Homo sapiens: one gene and its partners. The protein of the gene in region 5 purifies or fractionates together with the protein of the main gene of each other region. This does not show direct contact. Each region holds a gene or a part of one and is shown on either strand. Other genes may lie near its edges. The genes, in order: STARD7, NUDT19, MTRES1, TEFM, RCC1L, THEM5 and PRORP.

Region 1 (4,130 bases), on a different chromosome or scaffold from region 5:
CCTTATAATCCCAGCACTTTGGGAGCCCAAGGCAGGCAGATTACTTGAGGACCAGAGTTCGAGACCAGCCTGGCCAACATGGTGAAATCCCATCTCTACTGAAAGTTAAAAAATTAGCTGGGCGTGGTGGTACACGCCTGTAATCCCAGTTACTTGGGAGTCTGAGGCAGGAGAATCGTTTGAACCGGGAGGCAGAGGTTGCAGTGAGCACAGATTGAGCCACTGTACTCCAGCCTGGGTGACAGACCAAGACTTTTTTTTTTTTTTTTTTTTTTTTTTGAGACAGAGTTTCGTTCTTGTTGCCCAGGATGGAGGGCAATGGCACAATCTCGGCTCACCACAACCTCCACCTCCTGAGTTCAAGTGATTCTCCTGCCTCAGCCTCCCCAGTAGCTGAGATTACAGGCATGCACCACCATGCCCAGCTAATTTTGTATTTTCAGTAGAAACGGGGCTTCTCCATCTTGGTCAGGCTGGTCTCGAACTCCCGACCTCAAGTGATCCACCCACCTTGGCCTCCCAAAGTGCTGGGATTACAAGCGTGTGCCACTGCACCCAGCCAAGACTCCGTCTTTAAAAAACACTTTGGGCTGGGTGTGGTGGCTCACGTCTGTAATCTCAGCACTTTGGGAGGCTGAGGCAGATGGATCACCTGAGGTCAGGAGTTTGAGACCACCCTGGCCAACATGGCAAAACCCTGTCTCTACTGAAAATACAAAGAAAAAAAAAAACTAGCCAGGTGTGGTGGCACACACCAGTAATCCCAGCTACTCGGGAGGCTGAGGCAAGAGAACTGCTTGAACCCGGGAGGCGGAGGTTGCAGTGAGCCAAGATCACGCCATCGCACTCCAGCCTGGGCAACAAGAGCGAAACTCATCTCAGAAAAACAAAACAAAACAAACAAAAACAAAAAAACAAAAAAAACACTTTGGGTGTTTTTTTTTTCTTTTTTTTGAGACAAGGTCTCACTCTGTTGCACAGTCTGGAGTGCAGTGATGCAATCTCGACTCAGTACAGCCTCCACCTCCTGGGCTCAAGCAGTCATCCCACCTCAACCTCCTGTGTAGCAGGGACTACAGGCATGCACTACCACCACAACTAATTTTTTATTTTTTGCAGAGACTGGGTCTTCCCTGTGTTGCCCAGGCTGATCTCAAACTCCTTGGCTAAAGAGATCCTCCTGCCTCAGCCTCCCAAAGTGCTGCGATTACAGGCATGAGCTACCGTGCTCAGCCAGAGTGTTAAATTTCTAATGGCCTTCCTAAACAGAAACATTGCACACATATTGCTACATTTCATTGCTGGGGAAGGAAGCTTCACATGGACTCCTCCAGACTCCTCCTGTGCCTTTTTCTCTTATGATCCAGCTGCATATCTTTACTCTGACACTGTCATAAATCTTAGCTGGGGGCTGGGCACGGTGGCTCATGCCTGTAATCCCAGCACTCAGAAAGGCCGAGGCGGGCGGATCACTTGAAGTCAGGAGTTCGAGACCAGCCTGGCCAACATGGTGAAGCCCTGTCTCTAATAAAAATACAAAAATTAGCTAGGCGTGGTGGTGCACATCTGTAATCCCAGCTACTTGGGAGGCTGAAGCAGGAGAATTGCTTGAACCTGGCAGGTGGAGGTTGCAAGTGAGCCAAGATCGCACCACTGCACTCCAGCCTGCACAACAGAACGAGACTCCGTCTCCAAAAAAAAAAAAAAAAAATCAATATTTTGTACACAGTATGCACATCCTGAAGACAAAAAGACCACAAAATTTTATTCTTCGTATTATTGGTGATCTTACTGTATTGTTATTCTGAGGCTGTGTATTTCAACAAATTAGTAGTTGTGTTAGGGTTCCTGGGAATTGAGTTCTACAGTACAGGGAAAGACAAAAGATAGAAGATAGAAATAAAAACTCCATAGTCCTGAATTTGAATTAAAAGTATTAGTATATACTTAGGATTTATTTTATCTTAAAAATAAACATACCAGTAAAATGTATTACTTGGTTCTGTCTTCTGAAAAGGCCTACAAACAATAAACGACCCAATAGCTATGAATATTCTTAGCAGCCAAATTGTGGTATTTAAATGCCATTTTCCACTAAAAGGAACCAGGACTCCCTAAAGAAATGTTAATTTCCAGGTGTAAAACTAAAAATATACAAGATGAACCTACAACATCTTGTAACACCAGAAAGCAAGACAGCTTCTGGGGTCATGTCAAAGGGGCTTGAGCCAACAAGAAGACTCCCAATGACCAAAACTGGAATCAATTTGAGCATCAATAAGGATAATATATTTAAAAACTAAGTACATTTAAGTCTGTGTCTTTTTTTTTTTTTTTTTTTGAGACGAGTCTCACTGTGTCGCCCACGCTGGGGTGCAGCGGCACGATCTTGGCTCACTGCAACCTCTGCCTCCCAGGTTCAAGCCATTCTCTCCTGCCTCAGCCTCCCAAGTGGCTGGGATTACAGACACGTGCCACAATGCCTGGATAATTTTTGTACTTTTAGTAGAGACAGGGTTTCACCATGTTGGCCAGGCTGGTCTCAAAATCCTGACCTCAAGTTATCTACATGCCTCGGCCTCCCAAAGTGCTGGGATTACAGGCGTGAGCCACTGCGCCTGGCTTTTTTATTTTTTATTTTTTTTTTGAGAAGGGTCTCAAACTGTTGCCCAGGCTGGCATGCAGTGGCACAAACACGGCTTAATGCAGCCTTGACCTCCTGGACTCAAGTGATTCTCCCAACCTCAGCTTCCCAAGCAGCTGGGACTACAGGCACATATCACCATGCCTGGCTAATTTTTATTTTTTGTAGAGACCGGGTCTCTCCATGCTGCCTGGCCCAGAGCTGTTTTACAAATTTCTTACTTGGGCTGGGCACAGTGGCTCACGCCTCTAATCCCAGCATTTTGGGAGGCTGAGGTGGGAGGATTGCTTGAGTCCAGGAGTTTGAGACCAGCCTGCGCAGCATGGTGAGACCCCATCTCTACAAAAAATACAAAAAATTAGCCTGACATGTTGGCACACGCCTATAATCCCAGCTCCTCAGGAGGCTGAGGCAGGAGGATCACCTGAGCCCAGGAAGTCAAGGCTGCAGTGAGTTGTGATTGTACCACTGCACACTAGCCTGGGTAACAGTGGGAGACCCTGTTTCCAAAAAAACCCAAAATCCTTATTTGAGATAAATACTGAAATATATAATAGAAGAACTGGGTTCTCCTACAGTAAAGCTAGAATTTGCTTCAAAATAATCAGGGGAGTGAGAAAGGAAATGGGAAAGGGTATAGATAAAACAATTTTGGCCATAAGTTGATAACTGGAGCTGGGGATGGATACAGGGGGTTCATTATACTCTTCTACTTCTGTATCTTTTGTATCTATTTCAAATTTTCCATGATAAAAACCCCCTACCTTGGCTCAAAGATCTAATTCCCATTTGGCAAATCCAAACTCAGCTACATGGTTTTCGAGTACCCTCTGTACACAGTCAATGCAATTTATCACTTCTCCCTAACCTCTACTTTCCTCTCTAAGCATGTGAGTCTCTCAGTGCATACCTGGCTCATTCCTATCTTTGTCTTTGCTTGAATCATGTCTTCTAACCCTAGTGCCCTGCCTGCTTTCCTCTCTATCCAGTGTACTTTTTTTTTTGTTTTTTTTTACAAGGACCAACTCAAGTCCTTGAGGTGGTATAAATAAAACAACTTGATGAGAATAAGAAAACTACACTAAAGAACACTGTCCATATAGCCCTAAATCGAACACAAGCAATAGGGAGAAACAAAGCCATTATAAGGTGAAGTGGAACTAAAACCAGCAGCCACTAGCATCAATATCTATACTCTCAGTGGAGATTTAGCTTAAAAAGATAAAAAATAAACACAAAACACCTCATTAGGCTGAAATAAATATTCTTTTCAAAGAAAGGTCACAGAATTTTAAAGAAGGCAGACAGCATGAGTCCAATCTTCCCATTACTCTGGCAAGGAAGCAGAAATCCAGAAAAGTTTCCATCCAGTGCTCTGCCCACTGTAGTAAAATGTTGACAGGAGGTACTCGCTCTAGTTCCTGAAGAATGCTACTGATACAGGCTAATGCGTCAGTGGCTATGATTCTTTTAACTATCTCTCAGA
Region 2 (3,366 bases), on a different chromosome or scaffold from region 5:
TATTTTTCACCATGGCAGAAAGTATAAAATTTTAATTCCATCGAGTATTATTTTATAAATCACTCCAATATACTAATGAAATACAAATCAGTATTTTTATCTATTTCATATGTTTGGAACTGAGATAGTTGTTAAATCAGTATTTATTTTGATCTATTTAATATGTTTGGAACTGAGATAGTTGTTAACTAATCTAATTCTATGAGCTTACCTCAATTTCTTTATTGTGTTTTTTTATCTGTTTTTTGAGATGGAGTCTCACTCTGTTGCCCAGGCTAGAGTGCAGTGGCGCGATCTCGGCTCATTGCAACCTCCACCTCTTGGGCTCAAGCAATTCTCATGCCTCAGCCTCCCGAGTAACTGGGATCACAGGTGTCTGCCACCACGCCTGGTTAATTTTTGTATTGTTAGTAGAGACAGGTTTCGCCATGTTTACCAGGCTGGTCTCAAACTCCTGACCTCAAATGATTCACCCACCTCGGCCTCCCAAAGTGCTGGGATTACAGGCGTGAACTACTGCGCCTGTCCTCTTTCTTGTGTTTTTAATATCCCCTTACAACACCCCAGCCAAGAGTTTTCTTTGGGCCCATAAACATCTGTGACTGGTATGTTTCCACTGTGAACTGTAACTATTATACCAGTTCATGACTCTCTTTATTCTATTCAATACTGATATTAAGATTGGCCTTGATATTCATATACTTTTGATGTTTCAAAGTGGGCTGTTCTTATCATCTTCAGGTTAATTTAGAGAAATTCCATCAAAACTGCTAAATTTTCCCACTGTAGGTTGAGTAATAAATCTTTTTTTTTTTTGAGATGGAGTTTCGCTCTTGTTGCCCAGGCTGGAGTGCAATGGCGCAATCTCAGCTCACCACAACCTCTGCCTCCTGGGTTCAAGTGATTCTCCTGCCTCAGCCTCCCAAGTAGCTGGGATTATAGGCATGCGCCCCCATGCCCAGCTAATTTTGTATTATTAGTAGAGACGGGATTTCTCCATGTTGGTCAGGCCGGTCTCGAACTCTCGCCCTTAGGTGATCCACCCGCCTCAGCCTCCCAAAGTGCTGAGATTACACGTGTGAGCCACCGCGCCCAGCCTTTTGTTTTGTTTTGTTTTTGACAGAGAGTGTCGCTCTGTCGCCCAGGTTAGAGTGCAGTGGCATGATCTTGGCTCACTGCAACCTCTACCTCCTGGGTTCAAGTGATTCTCCTGCCTCAGCCTCCTGAGCAGCTGGGATTACAGGTGTGTGCCACCATGCCTGGCTAATTTGTTTTTTTTTTTTTTTTTTGTATTTTCAGTTGAGATAGAGTTAACATTTTACTTTATTTTCTTCATAATTTCATAATTCATAATTTCAATTGAAATTATGTCCAACTGAAAAAAAAAAACAAAGTTGGCTGGGCACAGTGGCTCATGCCTATAATCCCAGAATTTGGGGAGGCTGAGGCGGGCGGATCACCTGAGGTCAGGAGTTCAAGACCAGCCTGGCCAACATGGTGAAACCCTGTCTCTACTAATAATACAAAAAAATTAGCCAGGCGTGGTGGCACATGCCTGTAATTCCAGCTACTCGGGAGGCTGAGGCAGAAGTATCGCTTGAACCCAGGAGGCAAAGGTTGCAGTGAGCCCAGATTGCACTCCAGCCTGGGTGACAAGAGCAAAACTCTGTCTCAAAAAAAAAGCTCCCTAATTCAAATTAGATGACAACTTACGAGTTCTCGTAATTCAAACTTAAAATGCAAAAAAGTGAGAAATCAGCCAGGCATGGTGGCTCATGACTGTAATCCCAGCACTTTGGGAGGCCAAGGCGGGTGGATCACAAGGTCAAGAGTTCAAGACCAGCCTGGCCAAGATGGTGAAACCCCGTATCTACTAAAAAAAAAATACAAAGATTAGCCGGGCACAGTGGTGGGCACCTGTAATCCCAGCTTCTTGGGAGGCTGAGGCAGAGAATTGCTTGAACCTGGGAGGTGGAGGTTGCAGTGAGCCAAGATTGTGCCACTGCACTCCAGCCTGGGTGACAGAGGGAAACTGTCTCAGAAAAAAAAAAAAAAAGTGAGAAATTATATGAGAAAGACCTTTGTCAATGTCTAGGAAATATATTAATATAAATGTATGTGTATGTATATGACATTATGCAGAATTTCTGGTTATAATAATATGGATATTTTATAGGCTTTGATCTTACTTAGCTAATACCCTGTAGATTACAAAACACAGACTGTAATTCCTGTCTCTACGTTGGGCAATACAGCCATGCAGCCCAGGGCACTGAATGTGAATACTAACAAAAGCACCGATGCTTCACTGGTTTACCTGGTAAAAGATGGACCATCCCATCAGCAGTTAACAAGATGATCGGCAGCCACCTTTCCAGTCCTTCTAATGCACGACCCAAACAAAATTTGTGCAAGTCAGAGAGAGAGGCAAAGTTTGCAAGTCTTCTCACTTCGTAGAACTGTGGGGGTGGCAACCAAATTTCTTTTGATAAGAAACTTTCAGTTGCCTCTGATGGAGATGACCACTGTGAAAGACAAAGGCAGGGTTTCTTAAGGTTTATGCCATAGACAATGTGAGACTTGAGACAGTCAGACCAGTACCTAAGGTAGAACTGAATGTGTAAAATGAATTCATTAATGCGCCCTGTGAGATCCCTCAAAGACAACATGAAAAGATTCAGTGAAGAAAGCTGGGTTGATCCTCTTAAGAGGTTGCTTATTAGGACACTGATCCTCAGAACTAGTAAATAAACCAGGGCAGACCCCTGAGGCTTGACCTGGGAGAGCTGTTCAGCATAAGAGGTGGGAGATGCAGAGAGGGTAAGGTGGTTCCGGTCCCTGCTGAAAGAAGAAAGACTCTGAAGGGTAAACTCATCACAGTAGATGGAGAATTTGGTGCCTGTTCATTCCTCTGGGAAATGGGTACTTGGCTAGATCCTGAGGATATAATGATGGACACCACAAAGCTCTCCTAGGCCCTATGGGGACTTCAGCAACCAAAATGCTTTGTGATGTGGTGATGTGTGCCACATGGTACAACGGCGGTGAAGCATCAGGAGCAACAGCAGCTTTCAGGAAGTCACCTGGCATGACTCAGCCTACAGTCAAGAGAGTAATAACTTGGTAGGGTTTCAGCCAGGCAGTATTTGCCCGGAAAACTTCAGTGGCTTCATTCTACAACCTCCTCTCCTTCCTGAGCCTTCTTTCCATAGACATTTAGATAAAAAGAGCTGATTCAATGGATATGGAATAACCTCAAAGGTTGTTCTTTTTTTTTTTTTTTGAGACGGAGTCTCGCTCTGTCACCCAGGCTGGAGTGCAGTGGCCCGATCTCGGCTCACTGCAAGCTCCACCTCCTGGGTTCAC
Region 3 (4,620 bases), on a different chromosome or scaffold from region 5:
ATATTGGTGAAACCCTGTCTCTATTAAAACTACAAAAATTAGCCGGGCATGGTGGTGCGTACCTGTAGTCCCAACTACTAAGGAGGCTGAGGCAGGAGAATCGCTTGAACCCGAGAGTGAAGGTTGCAGTGAGCAGAGATCATGCCATTGCACACCAGCCTGGGGGCCAGAGCAGGCCTCATTCTCAAAAACAAAAAAACAAAACAAAACAAAAGAAAAAACAGGGAAGAAGATTAAGTGGCAAGTGAGGTAGGTGAAACCAATGGGGTATCCTATAACTCAAGTAAGTTGAGGAATGAGACCAGACCTTTGGATTTACATTGCAGAGGTCATCTGTGACTTTGACTAGAAGTTTTGTTAGAATGTTGCAGGGTGACATCTTGTTTGGTGTATGAGTCAGAGTTCTCCACAGACAGACCTAATGAGAGAGGGATGGATGGATGGATGGATGGATGGATGGACGAATGGATGGATAGTTGGTTGGGAGGGAAAGGGGAATTGGCTCACGTGTAAATTGCGTTGGTCTTGAAAAGATGTTTCCTTAAACTGCGAGTCTGACGTATTTGCACATTTTTCTGGAAACAACGCCTATATCTCTTGGAGATGTTCAAAGAGGGCGGGCTCGGTGGCTTACACCTGTAATCCCAGCACTTTAAGAGGCTGAGGCTGGAAGATCGCTTCTCTTGAGTCCCAGCCTGGGCAATATGGCGAAACCCCATCTCTACAAACAAAACAAAACAAAACAAAAATTAGCAGGCCGTGGTGGCACACACCTGGAGTCCCAGGTACTGGGGAGGCTGAGGTGGGGAGAACAGCTTGAGCCTGGGTAGCAGAGGTTGCAGTGAGCCGAGATCGCACCATTGCACTCCGGGCAACAGAGTGAGACCCTGTCAAAAAAAAAAATGTTCAAAGGGGTTAGTGGTCCCAGAGAAAGGATCACTTCATTAATAATTAAGATGATTAGCCGGTCATGGTGGCTCACGCCTGTAGTCCCAGCTACTTAGGAGACTGAGGAACGACAATCGCTTGAACCCGGGAGGCGGAGGTCGCAGTGAGCTGAGATTACGCCGCTGCACTCCAGCCTGGGCAAGAGTGAGACTCGGTTTCAAAAAAAAAAAAAAAAGAAAAAAGAATTAAGATGGCCGGGCGCGGTGGCTCACGCCTGTAATCCCAGCACTTTGGGAGGCCGAGGAGAGCGGATCACGAGGGCGGGAGATCGAGACCATCCTGGCTAAAACGGTGAAACCCTGTCTCTGCTAAAAACACAAAAAAATTAGCCGGGCGTGGTGGTGGGCGCCTGTAGTCCCAGCTACTCAGGAGGCTGAGGCAGGAGAATGGCGTGAACCCGGGAGAATGGTGTGCCCCGAGCCTACTTCCCGCGCAGTCCTCCAAGACGCGGCCTCCAGCAGGGGTCGCTGCTTCGCTGCCGCCCTGGCCTCGCGCCCCGCCCGACCCGCTCTCACTGCGCCGGCGCCGGCGGAAGGGGCGGGGCGCAGATAGGGGTAGCCTGGAGGCCTGCAGTCCGCGCGGCCGCGGGGAGGGACGAGAGGGCCTGACGTACAGGTGAGTGCGCCTCTGCTGGCGCGCCGCGCCGGGCCCCCTGCCCGCGCCCCCTGTCACTTCGCCTCTCCGCCCCGCCCACGCTCCCGCCGGGTCTCCCCGTGAGTGTCCCGTGTCCTGCCAGCCTCGGGACGCCCCGCGAGCTCAGGGCTGCGCAGGGACTGTGGTAATTGAGCGCGGCGAAGCCTTCCGTTCCTGCCTCCTGTCGCTCCTGCTGGCTCCGAATGCAGACTGCGAACCCGGGGACGCAGTTGTCCATTTCCTTTGACCTTGGGGACCCAGGAAGGTGCACTGCCCGCGGGGGTGGGGAGGGAGCGAGAGGAATCCGACCCTGTCTCAGCCCACAGCCTCCGAGGTCTCCAAGTAAAGGGAAGGATCTTTAGCTGCATTAGACTTCAAAGCGTTTAGACCAGTTTCTCCATCTTACGGAGCGGTGAACGGGCTCAGGAATGTGGAGCGTTTCCTGGCGTCAAGCAGGTCAAAGTCAGCGCTGCTTTTTTTACAGACACTGCTTTTCTTACAGTCTTCGGTTAGTTCAGATTGTATACCTCTCCTGAAGATGTCACCCAAAACCTCCTATGGGATTCTGCCGTGATCATCTCTCCACTCATCCCACACCAACGCCAAAGAGATCTTTTAAAATGAACTTCCATCAGGTCACTTCCCAGGGTCCATCATTGCGTGTTCTTTTCCTGATTCATTCGAATGCACCCGTCCTCCTGATCAATTTTTATTCCACAGGGTGTTGTTTTGTTTTGTTTTGTTTTGTTTTTTTGAGACGGAGTCTTGCTCTGTCGCCCAGGCTGGAGTGCAATGGCGGGATCTCGGCTCACTGCAAGCTCCGCCTCCCAGGTTCACGCCATTCTCCTGCCTCAGCCTCCCCAGCAGCTGGGACTACAGGCGCACACCGCCACACCCGGCTATTTTTTTTTTTTTTGAGACGCAGTCTCGCTCTGTCGCCCAGGCTGGAGTGCAGTGGCGCGATCTCTGCTCACTGCAAGCTCCGCCTCCCGGGTTCACGCCATTCTCCCGCCTCAGCCTCCCGAGTAGCTGGGACTACAGGCGCCTGCCACCACGCCCGGCTAATTTTTTGTATTTTTAGTAGAGACGGGGTTTCACCGTGTTAGCCAGGATGGTCTCGATTTCCTGACTTCCTGATCCGCACGCCTAAGCCTCCGACAGTGCTGGGATTACAGGCGTGAGCCACCGCGCCCGGCCTGTTTTGTTGTTTTTTTTTTTGACACTCGCTCTGTCGCCGAGGCTAGAATGCACTGGTGTGAACTCGGCTCACTGCAGCCTCCCCCTCCCAGGTTCAAGCGATTCTTCAGCCTCAGCCTCCCAAATAGCTGTGACTACAGGTGTGCACCACCACGCTTGGCTAATTTTTGTATTTTTAGTAGAGACGAGGTTTCACCATGTTGACCAGGCTGGTCTTGAACTCCTGGCCTCAAGTGATCCGCCCGCCTCAGCCTCCCCAAGTACTGGAATTACAGGCATGAGCCACCGCGCCCATACTATTTTTATTTTAGATCTCACTGTGTTGCCCAGGCTGATCTCAAACTCTTGGACACAAGCGAGTCTCCTGCCTTGGCCTCCCAAAGTGCTGGGATTATAGGCGTGAGCCACCTGCCTGACCTCATCTTGCCCTCTCAATCCCCCTTACCCTGCTCCACTTTCTTCCCCCAGTGCATTAACCACCAGCTATCATATAATTTACAGGGTGTTTTTTTTTTTGTCTACCTGTTTCCCCTACTAGACTATAAACTCTACAAGAATAGGAATCTTCGTATTTTTTTCCTCTGCTGAATTCCTAGTGCCCAGATTAGTGCTTGGCACATGGTAAGTGCTTAATTAAGGGGAGGATGCCAGTGTTGCTGAAGCTGAATTTGCAAGAGTCAAATTGGCAGATGAGGTTGGAGAGGAAATGGGGGTTGAGGGAGCACCAGATCCTATAGAGCCTTTAGACCATCGTAGAGACTTTGCTGTTCTCTGAGTGCTTTGGTAGGGATTTGAGGAAAGGAGTGACATCGTATGAATGACTTTATTATGTGCCCACGTGGAGGTGTCAAATAGGCAGCTATTGTGTTGCAGGTCCCCAGGTTCATTGATTCACTAAGAGGACTCAAAAGACTCAGCACGTAGTCATACTCACAGCTGTGATTTATTATAGCAAAAGGATACAAAGCAAAATAAGCAAAGGGAAAAGATGCATGGGACACAGTCTGGAGGAAACCCGGTGCAGTCTTCTAAGAGTCCTCTCCTAGTGGAGTCACATGGGGTATGCTTAATTCTTGCAGCATCAAATTATGACAAGACGTGAGAGATCTATCAGGAAAGCTTGTAGAGCTCATTTTTCCAATAAAAAGTCACATAGGCACTGTCTGCCTAGAATGTGCCAAAATTTCCGCCGCCCAGAAAAAAAGCAGGTGTTTAGAATCACATTGTACAGTTTCCAGCACAGTGAGCCACTCTTATCCAGGTGGGAATTGTGGGAACCCTCGTGAAGTTCAAGTTCTGAGACACTAGCCAAGGGCCAACTTTGCAAGCAGGCATTCTAAGGATAGCAGTCTCAGGCCTGTTATGTTAACTCGTTTCTGCACAGATGTACGAGTCTGGAATTTGGGAGAAAGTTCTGGAATGGGGATATAGATTAGGGTGTGGTTGGCATATAGGTGGTATTTAAAGCCACAGAAATGATTGATGTCTTGATAATGCATTTGTAAGAACTAATTGGGTACATTTAAGAGCTGAGCTGGATAAAGTGAATGTAGAAGAGAAGAGGACCAAAGATAGAGCCCTGGGCCGCTCCAACTTTAAGATATCAGGGAGGGCCGGGCACAGTGGCTCAGGCCTGTAATCCTAGCACTTTGGGAGGCTGAGGTGGGCGGGTCACTTGAGGTCAGGATTTCCAGACCAGCCTGGCCAAGGTGGTGAAACCCTGTGTCTACTAAAAATATAAAAAGTGGCCGGGTGTGGTGGTGGGCGCCTGTAATCCCAGCTACTCTGGAGGCTGAGGTGGGAGACTATGGCTTGAACTGGGGAGGCAGAGGTTGCAGTGAG
Region 4 (4,633 bases), on a different chromosome or scaffold from region 5:
GGCAGGTGGATCACGAGGTCAACAGATCAAGACCATCCTGGCGCCAACATGGTAAAACCTCATCTCTACTAAAAATACAAAAATTAGCTGGGCGTGGTGGCATGTGCCTGTAGTTTCAGCTACTCAGGAGGCTGAGGCAGGAGAATCGCTTGAACCTGGGAGGTGGAGGTTGTTGTGAGATCATGCCACTGTACTCCAGCCTGGCGACAGCACAAGACTCTGTCTCAAAAAAAAAAAAAAAAAAAAAATTGGCTGTGTCAAATATTTCTAGTATTTATTTTTTTAAGACAATAGAAAAAGAATTGCTTTTAGAATGGTGTTTTTTTTTTTTTTTTGAGACAGAGTCTTGCTCTGTAGCCAGGCTGGAGTGCACTGGCGTGATGTCAGCTCACTGCAACCTCTGCCTCCCAGGTTCAAGAGATTCTCCTGCCTCAGCCTCCCGAGTAGCTGGGACTACAGGCCCACGCCACCATGCCCAGCTAAATTTTGTATTTTTAGTAGAGATGGGCTTTCACCACATTGGCCAGGATTGTCTGGATCTCTTGACCTTGTGATCCGCCCGCTTTGGCCTCCCAAAGTGCTGGGATTACAGGTGTGAGCCAGCCGCTTTTTTTTTTTTTTTTTAATCTTACCTATAGACTTGCATGATTCAAGATAAAATGCTTTTTAAAGGAGAAAAGGTACAGAAAATAATTTTAAATTCTGCCGGAAAGACTGGTATAATGTTCTAAAGTCACTCACTGGCCATAACCTATCTTTGCTCCTTAATTTCTCATTAATCCTAACATCACCCTTAGACACAGCCTGGTATCTCCAACGACACTCCTCTTAAATAAGCCTTGCCTAGACCTGCTTCTCAGCATCAACTGTTCTTTCTACCTACAATGCCCTCCTCTCCCATCCAAAGGATCTCTCTTTTAAGACCTAAATTGAGTTCTTCCAGTAAACTTTCCACAACAGTCACAGCCCATTGTTTTCTCTCCTCTCAACTGCCAATTTACTATCTGTACATCTCATTATTTGGTAGTGATCATATACTTGCCAACTAAACCTGAAGAACCCTGTCTTAGCCACTTCCCAACCCAATGCCCAGAAGAGTGCTTTCTAGAGTAGGTTCTCAAATATTAGGCAGTATAGCAGACATGAAGAATATACCTTAAGTCTTTCTCTTTCTATGTCTGGTTTGAGGAGCTTTCTCAGGAACCGGTTTTCCGGTGACTTTCTTTTTTCCCGTCCAGTCTTTGGACAAAGTATGGAGTTACAAACTTGAACTGTACTTTTATACTTAAACAAGGGCACATTCATTAAACTCTCTAAATTCTGAAATGGCCCAAAGTTTTCTCTGTGCTCTACGATATTGATGGACCTTCTTCCACGAAGCAATCGGAAAGCTTCAAGTTCTTTAGTAGATGCTGTATTCAACACATGCAAGATGGAAGCCTGCTGTTCTGAAGAGAAGAGCTTGTCAAGTGCATTTTCGGGCTCCTTTGCATTTTCATCACAAAAAGTAACATTGGGAGTAATTTTCTTAGGTGTAGTGGATTTTTTCCGACAGCAGAAATTATGTAAGGCCCAGTACAGGGATGACCTCGACGGGGTCAGAAAGCATCTCCACCTCTCTAAAAGGAAAATTTAGCAAAATATAAGTTGGATGTCCTACTTCCTTTGGGGTTAGTTGCAAGCTTGACTAGATCCTTTGCAAAGTCACAAATACTTTCCTGGAATTTAAGAACTAATAGAGGACAATATTAAATTGTCTTGGAGAATCATCTTTTTTTTTTTTTTTTGAGACGGAGTCTTGCTCTGTTGCCCAGGCTGGAGTGCAGTGGCCGATCTCGGCTCACTGCAAGCTCCGCCTCCCAGGTTCACGCCATTCTCCTGCCTCAGCCTCCCAGGTGGCTGGGACTACAGGCGCCTGCCACCACGCCCGGCTAATTTTTTGTATATTTAGTAGAGACGGGGTTTCACAGTGTTAGCCAGGATGGTCTCCATCTCCTGACCTCGTGATCCGCCCACCTCAGCCTCCCAAAGTGCTGGGATTACAGGCGTGAGCCACTGTGCCCGGCCCGAGAATCATCTTTAAAAGAGGATTAGTTTTTAAACTATATTATATAGAGTTTTAAATAGAGCTTTTGTTGTTTTCAAGTCACGAGAGATGTCTCCCGATATTTATGGATCAGTCCGAAGTTTTACTACCTAGAAAATTGTATTTTATACCCATCAGGAAGCAAGTAGTTGAAATAATTATTCCAACTGCTTAAAGTTTCTGATATTTTTAATTTAGAGGAATCTTTTTGTAACTAATATTTCCTGTTAAGGTTTGTCTTAGGCCGGGCGCGGTGACTCACGCTTATAATCCCAGCACTTTGGGAGGCCGAGGTGGGCGGATCACCTGAGGTCGGGAGTTCGAGACCAGCCTGACCAACATGGAGAAACCCTGTCTCTACTAATAATACAAAATTAGCCGGGCGTGGTGGCACATGCCTGTAATCCCAGCTACTCGGGAGGCTGAGGCAGGAGAATCGCTTGAGCCCGGAAGGCGGAGGTTGCGGTGAGCCGAGATCGCACCATTGCACTCCAGTCTCGGCAACAAGAGCGAAACTCCGTCTCAAAAAAAAAAAAAAAAGGGTTTTGTCTTCACTTCCATTTTCACATTTTAGTATCTCATCTGGTGGAACTAAATAAAATTAAATTTTGTACGTTTATAAGAAATGTTTCAGCTAAGTGATAGATTTAAGGGCAGTTTTACTTTCTTCCGTACACTTTTCAAGACTTCTACATGACGTTTTTGCAAGTATGAGAAACACCATACAATGCATAACTTTGTAAAACCAGTGGGAAGTCACTCTAACATCGCAGCCACAGGAAAGTAATGTGGCCAGAGGTAAGCAAGCGGCTGTGAGAATGTGAACCATCCGCCCACTCTGAGGAGCCACCCGTGGACCCTGAGGCCGGGGAAGCACAAATGTTCCGAAAACTGCCCCGTCAGCTAGGCTGGGGCCCCAAGAGAGGGGCCTGAACAAGGGACATGAGGAAGGAAACACTCTAGGACATGAGGGACATGAGGAAGGAAACACTCCAGGTTCCTCCAGAATACCTCCAGCCGTATTCCATTAGCCTCTAGGGTCAGAGGCTAATGACAGACGGGAAATCACCCCAGTGTTCCAAGCACCCTACCTCCCGCCGTATTCCATTAGCCTCTAGGGTCAGAGGCTAATGACAGACGGGAAATCACCCCAGTGTTCCAAGCACCCTACCTCCCGCCGTGAAGAGGACAGACCCGCTCATCTCCAAGTTGAATCAGTAGGTCCAGTCTTCCTCCATTGACTTCCGGTTCCTGCGTGCTGCGCCCAAAAGCGCTCGGCCTGCACTCGGCGGAAAGGTTGTTGTCCAAGCGGCGTTCCGGGGCAAGGCCCGAGGTGTGTCCCGCTGAGCAGTGGGTCGTCCGCGTCTGGGCTGCGGGCTTCCAGGCGGGCGCCTGCCGAGGCCCTGTCCCCGGATCCCGAGTCCCTGGCTGGCCCGCAGTCTTCTTCCACTGCACCGGGGAAACGTTCTTGCCCCTACCGACTCCTGAGAGCCGCTGGGCCGAATCTCCAGGAAGGCGATTCCGAGGCCAGTTTTAGTCTGTAGTGGGTAAAGTGCCTCCTTCGTGGAGACTCCCTGGGTTTCTCCTAGACACTTAGATTGAGGAGCTCCTGTTGGGGCCCAGCCTGTGGCGCCGGGAGCGGGATCAGGTAGGGGCAGCGTAGACAAGGTCCTCAAATAACCTTTTCACCAGGTAGACTGGAATAACGGGGAGAGATGCGAAGTGTTTGAGGAGCTCAGCGGGGAAACAGGGCAGGCAAGGGATTAGGTAAAGGCGAGGGAGGAGGAGATTGCGTTGGCGCTGGAGCGGTATTCCTCTTAGAAGGGATAAAGGGAGATGAATGTAGCGCCGAATTTAGTTGGTCCTTGAATAATGGGTGGAGCAGTTGAATACTCCACCAGATAGGAAGCCTGAAGTCCCCGAGGTTTATGATTTGCAGTCAGACTGGAGAGTGTTCCTAGAAAATTGGCCATATACTGTATAGCGAATGTGAGGCTGGATTGCAGGTGAAGAGCCTGGGAGCAATGAGAAGTCGCGAAGAGAGTGTATCTTCCCAGGTGAGAGGCAAGCGTAAGGAATTTTTTTTTTAACAGTCTTGCTCTGTCGCCCAGGTTGGAGTGCAGTGGTGCGATCTGGACTCACTGCAAACTCCGCCTCCCGATTTCAAGTGATTCTCGTGCCTCAGCCTCCCGAGTAGCTGAGATTACAGGCGAGCGCCACTACGCCCGGCTAATTTTTGTATTTTTAGTAGAGACAGGTGTCACCATGTTGGCCAGGCTGGTCTCGAACTCCTGACCTCAGGTGATCCGCCCGACTCGGCCTCCCAAAGTGCTGGGATTACAGGCGTGGGCCACTGCGCCTGGCCAACCGTAAGGAATTGAACCTAGGAGATGTAAGGAGAGTGGAAAGAAAAGAATTATTTCTGGAAGATGGGGAGCCAGTTTTGTGAAAAACGGGGAATTCAGGAGGGAGGGAAAGGTGATGAGTTTGCGTTTTTATGAGGCAGCAATGGGTTGATTGTTTGTGTCTGGAAGGCAGTGGGGATGT
Region 5 (4,130 bases):
CATACTGTCCAACTCCACGCTACTACACTGGAAAAAAGAGAGTCGGAGGTAGGAAAGACTCATCAAGACAGGTAAGTTAGGCGCAGAGCAAGGACCAGAAGCCCAACTCCCAGCCCATGGCATGGGCTGTCTCTATTACATAATGCGGGTTCCAGAAAAGCATACTTGGTCTTCTGGCTGGGCGCAGTGGCTCATGCCTGTAATCCCAGCACTTTGGGAGGCCGAAGCGGGCAGATCACCTGAGGTCAGGAGTTCGAGACTAGCCTGGCCAAAATGGTGAACCCCATCTCTATTTAAAATACAAAAATTAGCCGGGCATGGTGGCGGGCGCCTCTAATCCCAGCTACTCGGGAGGCTGAGGCAGAAGAACTGCTTGAACCCGGAAGGCGGAGGTTGCAGTGAGCTGAGATTGCGCCATTGCACTTCAGCCTGGGGGACAAGAGCGAGACTTCATCTGGAAAAAAAAAAAAAATGCATACTTCGTCTTCTTATTAAAGAAATCTTGGCCGGGCAGTGGCTCATGCCTGTAATCCCAGCGCTTTGGGAGGCCAAGGCAGGCGGATCACTTGAGGTCAGGAGTTTGATACCCACCTGGCCAACAAGGTGAAACCCCCGTCTCTACTAAAAATACAAAATTAGCCAGACGTGATGGTGGACGCCTGTAGTCCCAGCTACTTAGGAGGCTGAGGCAGGAGAACTGCTTGAACCCAGGAGGCGGAGGTTGCCAGTGAGCCAAGATTGCACCACTGCACTCCAGCCTTCTGGGAGACAGAGCGAGACACTGTTTTAAAAAAAAAATACAAAAATACAAAAATCAGCCAAGCATCATGGTGCATGCCTGTTGGTCCCAGCTACTTGGGAGGCTGAGGTGGGAGGATCACTTCCAGCTACTTTGGAGGCTGAGATGGGAGGATCACTTGGGCCAGGGAGGTTAAGGCTGCAGTGAGCAGTGATCATGACACTGCACTCCAGCATGGGTGACAGGGCAAGACCCTGTCTCCCCTTACCCCCCCAAAAAATTAAACTGTTGGAATTTGCTTCAAATTTATTGAGGGGGAAGGTGGGAAAAATGAAGAAAACGAGACTGGCATGAGTTGATGATGCCTGAAGCTGGTGATGCCACATCATACTACTCTGCACACTTCTGTAAGTCTAAAATTGCTCTGAATAAAAGGTATAAAAAATGTAACGCGGGCCGGGCACGGTGGGTCACGCCTGTAATCCCACCACTTTGGGAGGCCGAGGCAGGTGGATCACCTGAGGTCGGGAGCTTGAGACCAGCCTGACCAACGTGGAGAAACCCCATCTCTACTAAAAATACAAAATTAGCCAGGCATGGTGGCACATGCCTGTAAATCCCAGCTACCTGGAAAGCTGAGGCAAGCGAATTGCTTAAATCCAGGAGGAGGAGGCTGCGGTCAGCCAAGATCACGCCATTGCACTCCAGCCTGGGCAACGAGAGTGAAACTCTGACTCAAAAAAAAAAAAAAAAAAGTAATGTAACATCTTACAGCTAATAAAGACTTCTATACTGACTTATAAAAGACATCTGATATATAGGTCGGGCATGGTGGCTCACACCTGTAATCCCAGCACTCTGGGAGGCCAAGGCAGGTGGACCACTTGAGGTCAGGAGTTCAACACCAACCTGGCCAACGTGGTGAAACCCCCGTCTCTACTAAAATCCCCAAATTAGCCAGGTGTGATGGCGGGCGCCTGTAGTACCAGCTACTCAGGAGGCCGAGGCAACAGAATCACCTGAACCCAGGAGGTGGAGGTTGCAGTGAGCTGAGATCATGCCACTGCACTCCAGCCTGGGCGACAGCAAGACTCCATCTCAAACAAACAAACAAAAAAGATATCTGATACAAAATAAATGAAAAAAGACAGAAAACAAAATATATGCTATGTATGTAAAAATGTATTTGTCTGTGAACAAGGGAACAGGAAAAAACAAAAATGAAAGGTTTGTCCAGTATGTACTTCTGGGTAATTTCCTATGTTATTTTATATTTATTTATTTATTTATCTTTTATTTATTTTGAGACGGAGTCTTGCCCTGTCGCCCAGGCTGGAGGGCAGTGGTGCGATCTCGGCTCACTGCAACCTCTGCCTCCCAGTTCAAGCGATTCTCCTGCCCCAGCCTCCCGAATAGCTGGGATTACAGGCGCGCGCCTCCATGCCCAGCTAATTTTTGCATTTTTAGTAGAGACGGGGTTTCACCATGTTGGTCAGGCTGGTCTCAAACTTCTGATCTCGTGATCCACCCGCCTCGGCCTCCCAAAGTGCTGGGATTACAGGCGTGAGCCACTGCGCCTGGCATTTCCTCTCTATTTTAGGAACTCTTTCTTTTTTCTTTTTTTTAAGAGACATGATCTTGCTCTGTTGCCCAGGCTGGAGTGCGGTGGCGCAATCACCGCTCACTGCAGCCTCAAACTCCTGGGCTCAAGCAATCCTCCTACCTCAGCCTCTGGAGTAACTAGGATTATAGGTGCATGCCACCATGCTCAGCTAATTCTTTTTCGTTTTTCATTTCTTTTTTTTAGAGACAGAGTCTCGCTATGTTGCCCAGCGTGGTCTGGAACTCCAGGCCTCAAGCAATCCCTCCCATCTCGGCCTCCCAAAGTGCTGGGATTACAGGCGTGAGCCCCTGTGCCTGGCCAAGGAAATATTTCTTACTGTTCTCACAGTAATTTTTAGCTAATGTCTACTTTTCTGTTTGTTTGTTTGTTTGTTTAGGACAGTCTCACTCTGTCACCCAAGCTGGAGTGTAGTGGCATGATCTCGACTCACTGCAACCTCCACCTCCCAGGTTCAAGAGATTCTTGTGCCTCAGCCTCCGAAGTAGCTGGGACTATACAGGTGCGTGCCACCATGCCCGGCTAATTTTTTATATTTTTAGTAGAGACGGGGTTTCACCATGTTGGCCAGGCTGGTCTCGAACTCCTGGCCTCAAGTGATCTGCCCTCCTCGGCTTCCCAAAGTGCTGGGATTACAGGCTGCCCTCCTCGGCTTCCCAAAGTGCTGGGACTACAGGCGTGAGGCACCACGCCCAGCCAGGCTAATGTCTACTTTTTAAAATGCCATTATAAGTTATTTCTAACATTTTTACAATCCAAGGCTCAAACATTTGGAATAAAGCCTCCATGTTAACGATTTCAATGCTTTTTCCCTCCAAAACATATTCTAGGCACTGCAGAGTACTTCACGCTGTCTGTCTCCAAGCCAGGAAAAAAAGGTCATCTCTTTTAGGCCACAAAAGAACATCTTTACTTATCTGCAAATGCCAGGTGCTTGCCTTTTGCCTGAGGGTTCAACATTGTTACCAAAGAGGCTAAAAAATAACCTAGCCCAGATGGTTTCAAACAACATCCCTTTAAGTCTTCCTCTATTTCTTTGCTATTTCTTTGTTTATGTAACCATGTTCTTGAACACCAAAGGGAGGGCTGGGCGCTGTGCCTCATGCCTGTAATCACAGCACTTTGGGAGGCTGAGGAGGGTGGATCACCTGAGCTCAGGAGTTCGAGACCAGCCTGGTGAACATAGTGAAACCCCAACTCTACTAAAAATGCAAAAATTAGGCAGGCATGGTGGCATGTGCCTGTAATCCCAGCTACTCGGGAGGCTGAGGCAGGAGAATCACTTGAACCCGGGAGGTGGAGGTTGCAGTGAGCCAGGATCTCGCCACTGCACTCTAGCCTGGCAACAGACTGAGACTCTGTCTCAAAAAAAATACAAAAAAAGAGCTTTCTCAGACCAATCCCGGCAAAGAGGAGACAAGGTAGGGATGCTCACTTTTATCTTTCCGGCTCCTGTGAAATCCAAGCTGAGAATCTTTGTTGAGTCCCATCCCCCAGACTTTCGTAACATCCGCAGTCTTAGAGGACAGCAGTGTGAATCCATAGCCGCAAGCAGCAGATGAAATCTGAAAAGCAGTTCCCACAAAGCATGAACTGATTTATAATGTCAAGTTTGTTCAGTAGTAAATGACAGGTTATTTATCAAATCCAAGAACACATACTATTTACGGGGGTTTTGTTTTTGTTTTTGAGACAGTCTCACTCTGTTGCCCAGGCTGGAGTGCAGTGGCGCAATCTCGGCTCACTGCAATCTCCATCTCCCAGGTTCAA
Region 6 (4,925 bases), on a different chromosome or scaffold from region 5:
GTAATCCCAGCTACTTGGGAGGCTGAGGCAGGAGAATTGCTTGAGCCTGGGAGGCAGAGGTTGCAGTGAGCCGAGATGGTGCCACTGCACTCCTGGGCAATAAGAGTGAGACTCTGACAAAATAACAACAACAAAAAAAAATGGTTCCCCCAGTCCTTGAGGAAGTTTAATTCAAACCTTTGCAGGAGGTGAGGGGAAATATTTATATTCTAGTCTTCTTCTAGGGCAACCAAATACAGAGGGTGAACCAAATCTTTTAAATTTCCGCATTAAATCAGTTTCATCTTTTGGAACCTGCCAAAATGTCATAATCATCACAACTATTATTATCGTCATCATCACTGTTATGATTCCACCTTTGCACAGTTCTGATTTTTTTTTTTTTAAGACAAGGTCTCACTCGGCCTCCCAAAATGCTGAGATTACAGCCTTGAGCCACTGCGCGAGGACTGATCTTTAGAACATGCTTTTATTTTAGTCAATTTAAAACTGAGACTTTTAATTGAAAATTGGCAGTTTAAATTCAATAGAAGACACACCACCACCAAATCCCACTGCCTTGCAGATGTTGGCTGAGTGTCCCTTCCCACTCAACAAAGCCTCACTGCCGCGCCCACCTCACTCCCAGCACTGCCTGCTGACATGAGCCACTCCCTGGGCACGGGGTTCCCAAAACATGAGAGTATCCCTGCCAAGCTGTTTCCTCCCAAATTATTTTCTGCCCTCCCTGTCAAGCCCTCCCCCACCTCCAACTCCTATCCCCAGCCAGAGACCAGCAGGTGAAACTCTCCTGTGCTAACCCTTGTCCGGGATATAAGAAGAGGTGTTGGCCGGGTGCGGTGGCTCACGCCTGTAATCCCAGCACTTTGGGAGGTCACCTGAGGTCAGGAGTTCAAGACCAGCCTGGCTAACATGGCAAAACCCCATCTCTACTAAAAAAAATATACAAAATTTAGCTGGGTGTGGTGGTGTGTGTCTGTAATCCCAGCTACTCAGGAGGCTGAGGCAGGAGAATCACTTGAACCCAGGAGGCGGAGGTTGCAGTGAGCCGAGATCACGCCATTGCACACCAGCCTGGGCGACAAGATTGAAACTCCGTCTCACCAAAAAAAAAAAAAAAAAAAAAAAAGAGGTGTCTAAGGCTGTGAGTTGGTTTTCTTTTTTTTTATTTTTTTATTTTTATTTTTTTGAGACGGAGTCTCGCTCAGTCGCCCAGGCTGGAGTGCGGTGGCTAGATCTCAGCTCACTGCAAGCTCCACCTCCCAGGTTCACGCCATTCTCCTGCCTCAGCCCCCTGCGTAGCTGGGACTACCGGCACCCGCCACCACGCCCGGCTAATTTTTTGTATTTTTTTTAGTAGAGACGGGGTTTCACCGTGTTAGCCAGGATGGTCTCGATCTCCTAACCTCGTAATCCGCCGCCTCGGCCTCCCAAAGTGCTGGGATTACAGGCGTGAGCCACCGCACCCGGCCTGTGAGTTGGTTTTCTGAGTCACAAAATCATACCAGAGTTTTCAGAGTCCGGTATACACTGCAGAGCACATACCAAGAACACTCCACCAGCACCCTCCAATCAAGGGACAGGCTTCCCTTATCCTTCTGGAAATATTCTTGGATTCTCCCTCAGAACCCCCAGGCAGCTCTCCAAGGCTCTATATACCCCATACTATTTGTTTATGTACTTGTTTACTCCTTTTGCAACTCAAGCCAGTCCTGCTGCCTTTTCATGCCCAAGCAGCATCTGTCCCTCCCCAAGCACTGGGTGGGGCTCCTAGACCAGCTAAAGGCGCCGAGCATCTGTGGGTGTTGCAGCACACCAGCCCAGCCTCGCCTAGCTCTCTGAAAGAAAGCCTGCAACAGAAGGGAGAGAAGCGGCCCCAAGTGCAGCTGAAAGCACTCCTTGGGAGTCAGCCAAGACCCTCCATCCAAGCAGGGCTGGATCCTTGCACTTGGCCATGATAAGGAGATGCTTCCAGGTGGCAGCAAGACTTGGCCACCACAGAGGCCTTCTTGAGGCCCCCCGTATCCTGCCCAGACTCAACCCTGCCTCAGCATTTGGATCCTCCACAGACTCCATGGTGAGTTCCCAGCTCAGCCAGATGGGCAGTGTTTTCCCAGGAGCCTAGGGCTTAAGGAGCACCCCAAATCTCCTCTTCCCAGCCCATGGCCAGGGCAGGTGGGCAGTGTTCGGAGGAGCTATTTGATTTGGCAAAGAGAAAGTGCTCTGGGATACCAAGTTGCCCCCATTCAAAACTAAAACTACCAGGAGACCTGCATCTGGCTCTGTGTCTTGTGTGGCCACCAACAAATGACTTTCCTCCTGTGGGACTCAGACTACTGCAGCAAAGCTGGGGTATCCCCAGACAGAGGACCCCATCTGTGGCATTGGCAAGCAGCTCACATGCTGTCTACAGTTGTGACTGGTGTATGAGCAGGTGACGCTACAGAGGACTTCCTTACGTCACACAGATGGGCACATAGTCTGTGCCCCAGCCATGGCACCACACCTCTGTGGGGGCCCAAATGTGTTTCAAAGGAGCCACCCTGCCCAGGCAGGCCCACAGCAGTGGGCAGAGCTGGAGTAGCCCCTGAGGTGGGGGTTGCTAGAATGGTCCTCAACAACTGTGACCCTGCCCTGCAGAGGAGACAGCATCTAGTGCGACCACCAGCTCTCACAGTCACATGCTTGGCAACCTTGGCCGTATTCCCTCAGTTTCCCCATCTGTACAGTGAGGCTAATATGAGCAGTTGTCAACTTTAAAGAACTGCTCACATGTTTTAAGCAGAACAAGGGTAAGGCACCACATCGAGCAGCATGCCCATCATCTCTGGCCCCACTCCCTGCCCGCCCTTCCCTTGCTCTTTAGCATCCTTATGCCCCGTCACCCATAGGGGTCCGCAGCCCCCCTGCAAGGAATATGGGCCCTTTCCCTTGGATCGATACTCTGGCAGAAGGGATTGAGAAGCCCCAGCACCCAGGAACAGCTGTTTAGAGGTCCCGAGCCCAGGCAGCAGCCCCCCTCCAGGATGCTGTCTAGTCATTCTGATTTTTCCTGCCCAGTTCTCAAGATTCTTGCCAGAGAAGACAGACTTGAAGGATTATGCTCTTCCCAATGCCAGCTGGTGTTCGGACATGCTGAGCCTGTACCAAGAATTTCTGGAGAAGACTAAGTCTAGCGGCTGGATCAAGCTGCCCTCCTTCAAGTCCAACAGAGACCACATCCGGGGACTCAAGCTCCCATCTGGACTGGCAGTTTCCTCAGGTAAGGACAGGACCATGAGTACACACACCCCAGCCGCCCTTCCCTGTGTTCTAAGACTGAGAAGCAACTTCACAGACCGCCTTCCAGTTCTCAGCGAGTTCTTCCTGCTGTCCAACTCCACCCCTGATGCTGCAGCCCCAGGCAACAGGCGGCGGGTGTCCTCTCAGGTCTCCAGCTCCCCTCCTCCCATCTGAAGCAGCACACCCTGGTGGGCCCACCTTCGCTCCCAGCCAAGCATGTCCCCACTGGAGGACAGCCAGCCCAGCTCCTGCCCCGACTTCTCACTGACTGCCCCTCCCTAACTATCAAGCCTCATCCCAAGCCTTCCGCCCCAACCCCATGAAAGCCCTTGGACCCCACACCCCTTCCACTGAGGCCCTGCACATCATCCCTGCTGTGCGGGGTCTGGAGCAGCACTCCTGAAACACCTAATGATCCTAATGGATCCTAATGATAGAGCTTCCACCTTCTTGTGTGTGTGTGTGCACTCGTGTGTGCACGCATGTGTATCTCCCTGTCTCTCTCACTCATATATGTTGTCTTCCTGCCTAGTGATGAAGGAGTGGTACAGGGGACAGACTACCCTTGGGTTTATGGCACAAACAAAGCAGGAATACCAACATAATTTTTTTTCAAAGAATTTGATACTTCCAAAAAAGGATGTAGTAGTGGTAGCTGTCTTGGAAAAAAAAAATCAGAACTTTGATGGACTTTTCTGCTCTTATTTTACTGTTTACTATTATTCTTTTGAATTATATGTGAGTTACATGAGTAATTACATTTTCAATTTTCAATGCTTATGGTCTCTTAAAGTCTTGCCCTGGCCCTGATCCTATCTCCATTCTCAGCCAGGGCACTTCCTGCATGTTTCTGCCCTAGACAGAAAGGCTCTGTGAGGACAGCAACTGTGCCTCTGCTCCCAGAGGGAAGGCTCCCTGGGGGTGGACCTGGTGTCCTCTGGTTTTCTCTCCTTAATCTTGTACCAGAGGCAAGACTCAACCAAATGGTGCTGCATCCTGACCATACCCTCCCTTCTCCGGCTGCAACACTGCCTATCTCTCCCCAGACAAAGGTGACTGTCGCATCTTCACCAGGTGCATCCAAGTGGAAGGACAAGGCTTTGAGTATGTCATCTTTTTCCAGCCAACCCAGAAGAAGTCGGTCTGTCTTTTCCAACCAGGCTCCTACCTGGAGGGGCCCCCAGGGTAAGGTCACTGGTAGGACCTTGGCTGCCTCCTGGGCTTGGCTCAGCAGGGCAGGTTCAGCACCCACCAGGCTGGCCCTGGAGTCTCTATCTTTCTCTAAGGGGTGAGGAAGGGAGTGTGGGGCACTAGGCTTCAGCCTCACAATACCAGGCCTGGAAGGACACACAGGGTTATCTGGCCTAATCCCCAGTGTGCAGATATGGGCTTCTCATCAAAGTCTCAAAATTTTCTGGACAAAAGACCTGAGAGGCCACTTTGAGAAGAATGTGGTACACTTGGAAGAGGGCAAGATCCGGAATCTAGACTCTGACTTGGTGTCCTGCCTGGCTGCTGCTGGCTGTGGGACTCTGAGCAAGCAATTGACCCCTGGTCTTTAGTCTTCTTACCTGAAACCTGGGGCAATAATATCTACCTGCCAGGGTGACCAGAGATATGATATTATGGGCCTATGTGTGCGT
Region 7 (4,130 bases), on a different chromosome or scaffold from region 5:
GGTTGCAGTGAGCCAAGATCATGCCATTGCACTCCAGCCTGGGCAACAGAACAACACTCCGTCTCAAAAAAACAAAACAAAACAAAACAAAACAAAACAAAAAAACACTAACTCAAAGCATTGAATGATCAAACTTACTTTCCTTCCTTCTTCCTTCTTCCTTCCCTTTCCTTTGCTTTGCTTTCCTTTCCTTTCCTTCTTCCCTTTTTTTTTTTTTTTTGATGGAGTCTCACTCTGTCGCCCAGGCTGGAGTACTGTGGCGCAATCTTGGCTCACTACAACCTCCGCTTCACGGGTTCAAATGATTCCCCTGCTTCAGCCTCCCGAGTAGGTAGGATTACAGGCACGCACCACCATTTCCAGCTAATTTTTTTTTATTTTTAGTAGAGACAGGGTTTCACCATGTTGGCCAGGCTGGTCTTAAACTCCTAAACTCAGGTGATTCACACCCACCTCGGCCTCCCAAAGTGCTGGGATTACAGGCGTGAGCCACAATGCCTGGACGAATAATCCAACTTTCTTTTTTTTCTTGTTTTTTATTTTTTTGAGATGGAGATTTGCTCTTGTTGCCCAGGCTGGAGTGCAGTAGTGTGACCTTGGCTCACCGCAACCTCCGGCTCCCAGGTTCAAACGATTCTCCTGCCTCAGCCTCCTACGTAACTGGAATTACAGAGGCCCGCCACCACGCCTGGCTAATTTTTATATATTTTGTAGAGACGGGGTTTCACCACGTTGGCCAGGCTGGTCTCGAACTCCTGACCCCAGCTGATCCACCCACCTCAGCCTCCCAAAGTGCTGGGATTACAAGTGTGAGCCACCACACCCAGTTGAATAATCCAACCTTCAACGGATAAAGAAAGGATTGGGGCTGGGCGCAGTGGCTCATGCCTGTAATTCCAGCACTTTCGGAGGCCGAGGCGGACGGATCACCTCAGGTCAGGAGTTCGAGACCAGCCTGGCCAACATGGTGAAACCCGTCGCTACTAAAAATACAAAAATTAGCCAGGCGTGGTGGCAGGTGCCTGTAATCCCAGCTACTTGGGAGGCTGAGGCAGGAGAATCACTTGAACCTGGGAGGCGGAGGTTGCAGTGAGCCAAAATAGCACCACTGCACTCCAGCCTAGGGGACAAGAGTGAGATTTCTTCTCAAAAAAAGAAAAAAAGAAAGGATTGGCTAGGTGTGGTGGCTCACACCTATCTATAATCCCAGCACTTTGGGAGGCTGAGGCAGGCGAATCACCTGAGGTCAGGAGTTCGAGATCAGCCTGGCTAACATAGTGAAACCCTGTCTCTACTAAAAATATAAAAATTAGCTGGGTATGGTGGCAGATGCCTGTAATCCCAGCTACTCGGAAGGCTGAAGAAGGAGAATCGCTTGAACCCAGGAGGTGGAGGTTGCAGTGAGCCGAAATAGCACCACTGCACTCCAGCCTGGGTGACAGAGCAAGACTCTGTCTCAAAAAAAAAAAAAACCAAAAAGCAACTAGAGAAAAAAACAAATAACATACAATGGAGCTAAAATACATCTGGCAGCAGACTTTTCAGTGGAAACCTTACAGGCCAGGAAAGAATGGCATGACATATTTAAAGTGCTGAAGGAAAAACACTTTTACCCCAGAATAGTATATGCAGTGAAAATATCCTTCAGACATGAAGGAGAAATAAAGACTTTCCCAGACAAACAAAAGCTGAGAGATTACATCAACACCAGACCTATCCTACAATAAATGCTAAGGAGTACTTCAATCAGAAAGAAAAGGATGGCCAGCTGTGGTGGCTCATGCCTGTAATTCCAGCACTTTGGGAGGCCGAGGTGGGTGGATCACCTGAGGTCAGGAGTTCAAGACCAGCCTGGTCAACATGGTGAAACCCCGTCTCTATTAAAAATACAAAAACTAGCCAGGTCTGGTGGTGCACGCCTATAATCCTAGCTATTCAGAGGCTGAGGCAGGAGAATCACTTGAACCCAGGAGGCGGAGGTTGCAGTAAGCTGAGATCGCGCCATTGCACTCCAGCCTGGGCGACAGAGTGACTGCCTCAAAAAAAAAGAAGAAGAAGAAAAGGACCGTTACTCTGGTGACTCACGCCTATAATTCCAGCACTTTGGGAGGCCAAGGTGGGAAGATCACTTGAGCCCAAGAGTTTGAGACCAGCCTGGGCAGCATAGTAAGACCCTGTCTCTATATTTAAAAAAAAAAAATGGCAGAAAGAAAAGGACATAGGCCGGGTGCAGTAGCTCACACCTGTAATCCCAGCATTTTGGGAGGCCGACGCAGCTGGATAAAGTAAGGTTGGGAGTTCGAAACCAGCCTGGCCAACATGGTGAAACCCTGTCTCTACTAAAAATACAAAAATTAGCCGGGTCTGGTGGAGGGTACCTGTAATCCTAGCTACTTGGGAGGGTAAGACTCAAGAATCACTTGAACCCAGTGGGGGCGGAGGTTGGAGTGAGCTGAGATCGTGCCACTCCATTCCAACCTGGGCGACAGAGTGAGACTCCATCTCAATGAAAAAAAAAAAGAAAAGGACATTAATGAGCAATAAGAAATCATCTGAGGGTACATAACTCACTGTTAATAATAAGTACACAAAAAGACATAGTATATTATAACACTGTAACTATGGTGTGTAAACTAAAACTACTCTTATCTTTAGAAAGACTAAACAATGAGTTTAGTGAGGCAGTGCCTTACGCCTGTAATCCCAGCAGTTTGGGAGGCCGAGGCGGGCAAATCATGAGGTCAGGAGATCAAGACCATCCTGGTTAACATGGTGAAGCCCCGTCTCAACTAAAAAATACAAAAAAATTAGCCGGGCATGGTGGCGGGCACCTGTAGTCCCAGCTACTCGGGAGGCTGAGGCAGAAGAATCACTTGAACCTGGGGGGCAGAGGCTGCAGTGAGCTGAGATTGTGCCACTGCACCCCAGCCTAGGCAACAGAGCGAGACTCCGTCTCAAAAAAAAAAAAAAAAAAGAAAGTCTAAACAATGAACCAATCAAAAATAATAACGACTATAACTTTTCAAGACATTGATAGTACAGTAAGATATAAATAGAAACAATAAAAAGTTAAAAAGCAGGGAGACAAAGTAAAGGTGTAGAGTTTTTATTAGTTTTCTTTTTGCTTGTTTGTTTATACAGTGTTAAATTATTATCAGCTTAAAATAATAGGCTATAGTTAAGTATTAGTGAGCCTCATGGTAACCTCCAATCAAAAAACATACAAGGCTGGGCACGGTGGCTTACGCCTATAATCCCAGCACTTTGGGAGGCTGAGGAAGGCAGATCATGAGGTCAGGAGTTCGAGGCCAGCCTGACCAACATGGTGAAACCCTGTCTGTACTAAAAATACAAAAAAAAAAATTTGCTGGGCATGGTGGTGTGCGCCTGTAATTCCAGTTACTCAAGAGGCTGAGGCAGGAGAATCTCCTGAACCCAGGAGGTGGAGGATGCAGCGAGCCAAGATCGCACCACGGCACTCTAGCCTGGGCGACAGAGCAATACTCCATCTCAAAAAAAAAAAAAGAAAAATACAACAGATACACAAAAAATAAAAAGCAAGAAACTAAATTATATCACCAGAGAAAATCATCTTCACTAAAGGGAAGAAAGGAAGGAAAAAATAAGACCACAAAACAACCAGAAAACAAAATGGCAGGACTAAGTCCTTACTTATCAATAATAACATTAAATGTATCTAGGCACGGTGGGATATAACAAAAGCAGCTATAAGTGCCTATATCAAAACAGAAGAAAAACTTAAAATAAACAACCTAAATATGCATCTTTTTTTTTTGAGATGGAGTTTCACTCTTGTTGCCCAAGCTGGAGTGCAATGGCGTGATCTCGGCTCACTTCAACCTCCGCCTCCTGGGTTCAAGCGATTCTCCTGCCTCAACCTCACGAGTAGCTGGGATTACCAGCGTGCGCCGCCATGCCCAGCTAATTTTTTTTTTTTTTTTGTATTTTTAGTAGAAACGGGGTTTCACTATGTTAGCCAGGCCGGTCTCGAACTCCTGACCTCAGGTGATCCACCAGCCTTGGTCTCCCAAAGTGCTGGGATTACAGGCATGAGCCATCGCGCCCGGCCAAATATGCGTCTTAAAGAACTAGAAAAGCAAGAGTAAACC

What was found.
Region 1: the proteins of RCC1L (region 5) and STARD7 purify together in Homo sapiens (affinity purification with mass spectrometry; one large-scale study listed by BioGRID and IntAct). This does not show direct contact.
Region 2: the proteins of RCC1L (region 5) and NUDT19 purify together in Homo sapiens (affinity purification with mass spectrometry, with the first as the bait; one large-scale study listed by BioGRID). This does not show direct contact.
Region 3: the proteins of RCC1L (region 5) and MTRES1 purify together in Homo sapiens (affinity purification with mass spectrometry; one large-scale study listed by BioGRID and IntAct). This does not show direct contact.
Region 4: the proteins of RCC1L (region 5) and TEFM purify together in Homo sapiens (affinity purification with mass spectrometry, with the first as the bait; one study listed by BioGRID). This does not show direct contact.
Region 6: the proteins of RCC1L (region 5) and THEM5 purify together in Homo sapiens (co-immunoprecipitation; one large-scale study listed by IntAct). This does not show direct contact.
Region 7: the proteins of RCC1L (region 5) and PRORP purify together in Homo sapiens (affinity purification with mass spectrometry; one large-scale study listed by BioGRID and IntAct). This does not show direct contact.

What each region holds. Positions count from the first base shown.
Region 1 is NC_000002.12:96,188,014-96,192,143, forward strand, and holds part of STARD7 (stAR-related lipid transfer protein 7, mitochondrial isoform 1 precursor), read right to left. Parts: intron 1-4,130. UniProt on the Homo sapiens protein: May play a protective role in mucosal tissues by preventing exaggerated allergic responses.
Region 2 is NC_000019.10:32,708,344-32,711,709, reverse strand, and holds part of NUDT19 (acyl-coenzyme A diphosphatase NUDT19 precursor), read right to left. Parts: intron 2,526-3,366; coding exon 2,318-2,525; intron 1-2,317. UniProt on the Homo sapiens protein: Fatty acyl-coenzyme A (CoA) diphosphatase that hydrolyzes fatty acyl-CoA to yield acyl-4'-phosphopantetheine and adenosine 3',5'-bisphosphate.
Region 3 is NC_000006.12:107,026,709-107,031,328, forward strand, and holds the start of MTRES1 (mitochondrial transcription rescue factor 1), read left to right. Parts: upstream 1-1,490; 5' UTR 1,491-1,563; exon of another isoform or gene 1,564-2,138; coding exon of another isoform or gene 2,139-2,216; intron 2,217-3,301; exon of another isoform or gene 3,302-3,396; coding exon of another isoform or gene 3,397-3,399; intron 3,400-4,620. UniProt on the Homo sapiens protein: Mitochondrial RNA-binding protein involved in mitochondrial transcription regulation. Functions as a protective factor to maintain proper mitochondrial RNA level during stress.
Region 4 is NC_000017.11:30,902,911-30,907,543, forward strand, and holds the start of TEFM (transcription elongation factor, mitochondrial), read right to left. Parts: upstream 3,329-4,633; 5' UTR 3,289-3,328; coding exon 3,258-3,288; intron 1,620-3,257; coding exon 1,156-1,619; intron 1-1,155. UniProt on the Homo sapiens protein: Transcription elongation factor which increases mitochondrial RNA polymerase processivity. Regulates transcription of the mitochondrial genome, including genes important for the oxidative phosphorylation machinery.
Region 5 is NC_000007.14:75,066,845-75,070,974, forward strand, and holds part of RCC1L (RCC1-like G exchanging factor-like protein), read right to left. Parts: intron 3,926-4,130; coding exon 3,796-3,925; intron 1-3,795. UniProt on the Homo sapiens protein: Guanine nucleotide exchange factor (GEF) for mitochondrial dynamin-related GTPase OPA1. Activates OPA1, by exchanging bound GDP for free GTP, and drives OPA1 and MFN1-dependent mitochondrial fusion. Plays an essential role in mitochondrial ribosome biogenesis.
Region 6 is NC_000001.11:151,850,595-151,855,519, reverse strand, and holds the start of THEM5 (acyl-coenzyme A thioesterase THEM5), read left to right. Parts: upstream 1-1,807; 5' UTR 1,808-1,954; coding exon 1,955-2,077; intron 2,078-3,060; coding exon 3,061-3,262; intron 3,263-3,984; exon of another isoform or gene 3,985-4,328; coding exon 4,329-4,467; exon of another isoform or gene 4,468-4,925. UniProt on the Homo sapiens protein: Has acyl-CoA thioesterase activity towards long-chain (C16 and C18) fatty acyl-CoA substrates, with a preference for linoleoyl-CoA and other unsaturated long-chain fatty acid-CoA esters.
Region 7 is NC_000014.9:35,128,875-35,133,004, reverse strand, and holds part of PRORP (mitochondrial ribonuclease P catalytic subunit isoform 1 precursor), read right to left. Parts: intron 1-4,130.